Homo sapiens: one gene and its partner. The protein of the gene in region 1 purifies or fractionates together with the protein of each later gene. This does not show direct contact. Each region holds a gene or a part of one and is shown in the gene's direction. Other genes may lie near its edges.

What was found. The genes of interacting proteins can lie anywhere in the genome.
Region 2: the proteins of OR10G2 (region 1) and ATP12A purify together in Homo sapiens (affinity purification with mass spectrometry; one large-scale study listed by BioGRID and IntAct). This does not show direct contact.

The regions. Positions count from the first base shown.
Region 1 is NC_000014.9:21,633,336-21,636,360, reverse strand, and holds OR10G2 (olfactory receptor 10G2), read left to right. Parts: upstream 1-1,420; 5' UTR 1,421-1,518; coding exon 1,519-2,451; 3' UTR 2,452-2,525; downstream 2,526-3,025. UniProt on the Homo sapiens protein: Odorant receptor.
Region 2 is NC_000013.11:24,697,408-24,700,907, forward strand, and holds part of ATP12A (potassium-transporting ATPase alpha chain 2), read left to right. Parts: intron 1-1,250; coding exon 1,251-1,443; intron 1,444-3,339; coding exon 3,340-3,500. UniProt on the Homo sapiens protein: The catalytic subunit of a H(+)/K(+) ATPase and/or Na(+)/K(+) ATPase pump which transports K(+) ions in exchange for Na(+) and/or H(+) ions across the apical membrane of epithelial cells.

The DNA.
Region 1 (3,025 bases):
ATGAATTAAGTTATTTCACAGAATACTTAAGATAAAATCTCTTTGGAGAATTTCCGATAGAGATTAAACTTATTAATATTCACATGTTATTTATAATAATCTATTGTCATTTTAATTGCTTTATGAAAGTAGTCATTTGCATTACAAAGATATTTTGTAGTTAAATGAAAGATAAATGCATCTCAAACCATATATAGAGCGAAAAGTCTTTATCAAGCAACCTATTTAACAAAAAGAGTGAAACAAACACATTCCATCCCTCTATTTTATCATCTTGTTCAGATACTTGAAAATCTGTAAATGTCTTTAGAGAGAGTTGCTGTTTGATAGACTGCAATACATAGATATTACACACAAGCACACTAAAGATCAAGTCCTGCATTAATCAATGATTTTATAACAAACAATAAAAATTCCTCTGTGACCTCATACCAAAAAAAAAACCCAATCCCAAACCAATGAACCATATAAATCAACAAATAAATCTAAATGATATCCTGGAGCAAAAACAGGCATAAATGTTTCTTGGAGTTTTTTATAATGAAATTATACCCATATTACATGGTGAATGAGGTGGTCCCTTGACCTAAAAGTCCCAGCCATGTGAGCACAGGGGTCAGACAAAAAAGATCAAGAGAAACAATGTATTCAGTCAGGGGGATTTGGCAACATCCATTCTATCTATCTCAGTCATTCAGAAAATAATTACGGTATTTATCACTTTTAGCATGCTAGACGGGATGATTATTAAGAGAGAAAAACAGAAATTAGACAATGCAACATAATGTACGTGCTCAGAAAAGTATAAGCATTGTCCTCAGGGATCCGGAAAGCCTTCTTGAAGGTGAAGACACTCAAACTGAATCCTGAAGGAAAAGTGGGCACTACCTATGTGAAGGGAGCAGAAAAGATAGTGTGTGCGTAAGTCCCAAGTTAGAGCACACTACTGTGAGAAGCTTGAAGAGTGTCATGCCTCCCAACAATAAGAAGGAATTACAAGTGGTACAATAGCGATATAAATAAGGGCCAGATGAGGAATATTTTTGCATGATATGTTAAGGAGATGAGATTTTAGCTGAGGAAAAAGGGGACAATGATAGTAGGTGAAGAAAAAGTAGATGTGGTCATTATAGGGTGTTTGTTCCACACTGCTCTGCATCAACTTTAGCCCCTCCTTGGCGAACTCACTTTTTGGTTGGAATTTTCGGTACTTCTCTATCACTCTCATGTGTCCCTCTTCCTTCATCTGGCAAATCCTGGCTTTCAGTATCTCTCAATGGACAAGAGTTTCCTCCCATCTAGGAAACTAACCAGCCTCTGGAGGACTTCTCCTTTTAAGTAAACCTAAATAACTAATGGTGACACCACCTCCTCTTTTAAAAAACAATTTGACTCTATCTTGTTTATCTCATAATTCCTAGGCATCAATCATCCGACAAAAGCATTCACTTACAACATCATTGTGCTGTGTTTCTCTTGTCAAACGTCACCATTCATCTTAGCAGACTACAAAAAGACATGGGAAAGACCAAAAACACATCGCTGGATGCCGTGGTGACAGATTTCATTCTTCTGGGTTTGTCTCACCCCCCAAATCTAAGAAGCCTCCTCTTCCTGGTCTTCTTCATCATTTACATCCTCACTCAGCTGGGGAACCTGCTCATTCTGCTCACCATGTGGGCTGACCCGAAGCTCTGTGCTCGCCCCATGTACATTCTTCTGGGAGTGCTCTCATTCCTGGACATGTGGCTCTCCTCAGTCACCGTTCCTCTGCTTATTTTGGATTTTACTCCTTCCATCAAGGCTATCCCGTTTGGTGGCTGTGTGGCTCAACTGTATTTCTTTCACTTCCTGGGCAGCACCCAGTGCTTCCTCTACACCTTGATGGCCTATGACAGGTACCTGGCAATATGTCAGCCCCTGCGCTACCCAGTGCTCATGAATGGGAGGTTATGCACAGTCCTTGTGGCTGGAGCTTGGGTCGCCGGCTCCATGCATGGGTCTATCCAGGCCACCTTGACCTTCCGCCTGCCCTACTGTGGGCCCAATCAGGTGGATTACTTTATCTGTGACATCCCCGCAGTATTGAGACTGGCCTGTGCTGACACAACTGTCAATGAGCTTGTGACCTTTGTGGACGTCGGGGTAGTGGCCGCCAGTTGCTTCATGTTAATTCTGCTCTCGTATGCCAACATAGTAAATGCCATCCTGAAGATACGCACCACTGATGGGAGGCGCCGGGCCTTCTCCACCTGTGGCTCCCACCTAATCGTGGTCACAGTCTACTATGTCCCCTGTATTTTCATCTACCTTAGGGCTGGCTCCAAAGACCCCCTGGATGGGGCAGCGGCTGTGTTTTACACTGTTGTCACTCCATTACTGAACCCCCTCATCTATACACTGAGGAACCAGGAAGTGAAGTCTGCCCTGAAGAGGATAACAGCAGGTTGAAGGACTGAATGAAAATAAGTAACTACATCTGCATCATTATCACTGCCACTCTCTTCAGCTACTGCTGCATGTGACAAATGCCCAATAAACTGCTAAGGATTTAAAGTGAATTTATTTTCATTTTCTTTGGCAGAAAATTCTGAATTATTTCGACCCAAAATCTTTTCCCCTAATTAAACTGGTTCAGGTTGTTTTACATAATCTTTTAGAAATAAATGGATACATTATTTCTATCACCTCTATCTTGTGAGATGAGAAAATGCCTTACCAAAGGTTGAATAAGATGAGAATGTGTCAATGTCTTAGAAAGTATATCATGCCAGAAAATTTGAAAAGAGTAAAAAGGGGGCTCCATAACCCCTTGTTTCATTGTCTTTGCTCCTAATCCTAGACCCCTCTAAATTCCATTTCTTTGCTTGTGCATGGCATGAATATTTCCAAGCACTTGAACTTGAAAATTCTGGATTATTTGTGTTTTCTTCCTGTCCCTCGCCCTCGTGATGTGCTAACACATCAGATTCTGTCTCCTCAAAACTATGAAACCAGCTCAAACTGATTCAGTGTAGACTGTCTC
Region 2 (3,500 bases), on another chromosome or scaffold:
CAGATTGCTTGAGCCCAGGAGTTCAAGACCAGCCTGGGCAATATACCAAGACCTTATCTCTACAAAAAAAACAAAAAACGAAATTAGCTGGGCATGGTGGCACATACCTGTAGTCCCAGCTACTTGGGAGGCTGAGGTGGGAGGATTGCTTGAGCCTGGGAGGTCGAGGCTGCAGTGAGCTGTGATCGTGCCACTGCACTCCAGCCTGGGGCACAGAGTGGGACCCCGTCTCAAAAAAAAAAAAAAAAAAATTTAAGAGAGAAAGAGAGAAAGAAAAAGAAAAGGCCTATATTTTAGAAAGTGATAGAGCTGGGAGGTTTTCTGTTTGGTTTGGTTTTTGTTGGTTGGTTGGTTTTCTCAATGTCTTTACTTGATCATTAAAAAAAGCAGCAGCAGCAGCTGGTAACCCTATTTGCCCTATACTTCTTTTTGTACTCATCTTTGATACCCAGAAGTCTAAGAAATACTGATTTGTAAAGAACTGTTTTACCCAAAATTGTAGCACTTTTCTTTGCAACTTATTTTCTCCCAAACACTCCAGCTTCCTGAGATTCCTCTTGAGTGCTTAGAAGAGTACCTGGCTTATCAGAAGGGCTAGATAAGAGTTAGTCCTTTTATTCTTGTATATCGATTTTTTTTGCATATCTTATTAGGATGGATCTAGAAGTAGAATTGCTGGGTCAAGAGCATTCCTATTAAAATGGAGACTCCTGTGACTCGGCTGTCTTCCTGAAACATTATACGTGGAAGTGTCCACTTCCTCACACCCCGCCATTTTCTATGACATCCAAGCAGGAAAACTGGGTGGACAATGAGGTGAGGAGGTGCAGAAATTCCTGTCGCCTCCTCCCCTCCTGAGCTCAGAATAGTTTGGGTCTGAAAGACGGCTGCTCCCCACAGGGAGGTAGAGGAGGTGAGATGCAGAGGCTCGCAGCCCCCTAACTCTCACGGGCACCCTGGGAGATCTTGTTCAAGGCACAAGATTTCACACGCTGACGGCCACAACTAGCCTGCCTAAAGCAGCCAGTTTTGCTTGAAAGATGAGCTCCACTTATCCAGAGTGGGTGCCCCACTCTGGGCTGGGGCCAAGTCTAGAGCTCTTCGTCTTACTTGGCCACAGAAAGAAAAAGGGCGGAACATGCTGAGGATGCCATTGTGCCTCTTCCTCCTTTACATTTAATGGACCAGTAGAGAAGAAGGAATGCGTTTCACCTTTCTGTAAGTAACACGCTCAGTTCATTCCTTCCCAGCTCTCCATCCACGAGATGGATGACCCCCACGGCAAGCGCTTCCTCATGGTGATGAAGGGGGCCCCTGAGCGCATCCTAGAGAAATGCAGCACCATCATGATCAACGGCGAGGAGCACCCACTGGACAAGAGCACTGCCAAGACCTTCCACACAGCCTACATGGAGCTGGGCGGGTTGGGCGAGCGTGTGCTGGGTGAGTGCGGCGGCAGGGCCCTGCCCATCACCTGGTGGGCACAGAGATGAGGCAGGCGCCTTGAGGACCTGTGACCTAGCCCAGTGGCCATGGCATCCACGTGAAGCATGTAAAGGAGAACATGATAAGCAGGATGGGAACAAGGAGAGGATGCTGTGTGACAGCACCAAGCAGGGTGGGATGGCCTCCAGAGAGGCAAGCTCAGGGAAGACTTTATGGAAGGAGTTAAATTTCAAACTGGGCCTTAAGTGACTGCATTTGAGGGGAGATAGGGGAAAGTATCCAGGGCCCAGGGAACAGCACAGGCCAATCACAGAGGCAGAACGGCGTGGGGCACATTGGGTGCTGCCAGCAGGTGAGATGGCACTGTCACAGAAACAGGGTTCAAGGGCTGGACTGGAGGTCATGAGATGGAGGTCTTGAACATCTGGGTGAGGAGCCAGGTTTCATCCTGCAGTCAGTAGAGAGCACTGAGGGCTGTGCCACTAGAGTGAGCTGGGCAGTCGCAGGGCTGGGGAAGACTTTATGGAAGGAGTTAAATTTCTTTAACTTCTTTAAATGTCTTTGGCGGCAGCAGGGAGAGGAGAGATGCACATCTCCATAGGAAGCAGCTGCCCTTGCTCAGGCAAAAGGGATGGGAATTTTTTCAGGGTGATGGGAATGGGAAGGAGAGATCAGGGCAAGAGACTTCATAGAGGTAGAGTTTGGTAAGATTTAGAACCTATCAGAGAAGGATAATGTTTAAAAATGATTAAGCTTCCCATTTAACGACTAGGAAGAGAGTGATGCCAGTGATGCAGACAAAGTGTCAGGAAGGAAGGAACCTTAGAAATGCAACAGGAGGAGGACCCAATGGGGGTGCCTGCGGTGTTGTCAAAGGGGACAGTGTGTCCTGTTGTCAGCACCAGGGCTGGCGGAATGGTGCCCCATCAGGACCACAGAATGACAAATTCAAGGAAACAGAAGTGTATGGTTGACGATCCGGCTCATTAAACACCATGGAAGTCCTCACCAATACAGATGCAGTCTGTGGAATGTGTGTTTCTAAAGGCTATTGGAGTTGGCAAATCAGATAAAGCATATAAATGAGATGGTGATGCTTTAGGCATCCAATAACCCACAGTACCGGGTATTCTACACGGGATCGATGCCCACTTGCGTTTGATTTCTCAAAGCCTGCTCCATTGACATTTGCAAAGCAGTGGGCCAGGCTGAAAATAAATTGGATGTGAAAGCTGATCACACAATCTTGGAGGTCCCACCAGACACAAGAGTCCCTTCCACCTCAGCCTATGAGAGGCTGATGCCTTCTGAGAAAAGGATGGCTCGGCCCCATTCCTGCTGGCCTTTCTCTTGGGCTTATCTTGATCTAGCACTGAACTTTGTGCCCCTCCGCTGAACCCCCTTGTTCCTTCACATGCTGTTTTCTCTGCTGAAAATGGCCTTCCCACCTCCACCCTCCCTTTTTTCCCTAGAAATCATCTTTGCCCCTCTCAAGCTTCACCTCACATGTGACCTCCTTGGGGAAGTCTCTCCTAATCCTCCAGGCAGCTGAAATGTGTCTCTGCCCTGAGATGTACCCTATGCTTGATCCCTTTAACTCTGTGCCCCGCTAAACTTCAGAAGTCGAGACTGTGTATTGCCCTAGAACTTGGCAATATAGCAAGATATATTTCTAGAACACAGAGCCTAATGAGCTCACAGTGAATTATATTTGGATGAAATATGTCTTTCCTAAAAAAATGCATTATGGAGTTGAAGAAATTAAACAATTCTGGCTTATTCTAATGTATTGGTAAAACAGCAGAGGACCAAGGTGTATGAGCATGTTCTCCTCTTATTTTTTTTCGTTTCCTATTCTAGTTTCACTGACTCACTAATTCATCTGTATTACAGGTTTCTGTCATCTCTACCTGCCAGCAGACGAGTTTCCAGAAACCTACTCATTTGACATAGACGCTATGAACTTTCCGACCTCCAACCTCTGTTTTGTGGGACTCTTGTCAATGATCGATCCCCCTCGGTCCACCGTGCCAGATGCAGTCACCAAATGCCGG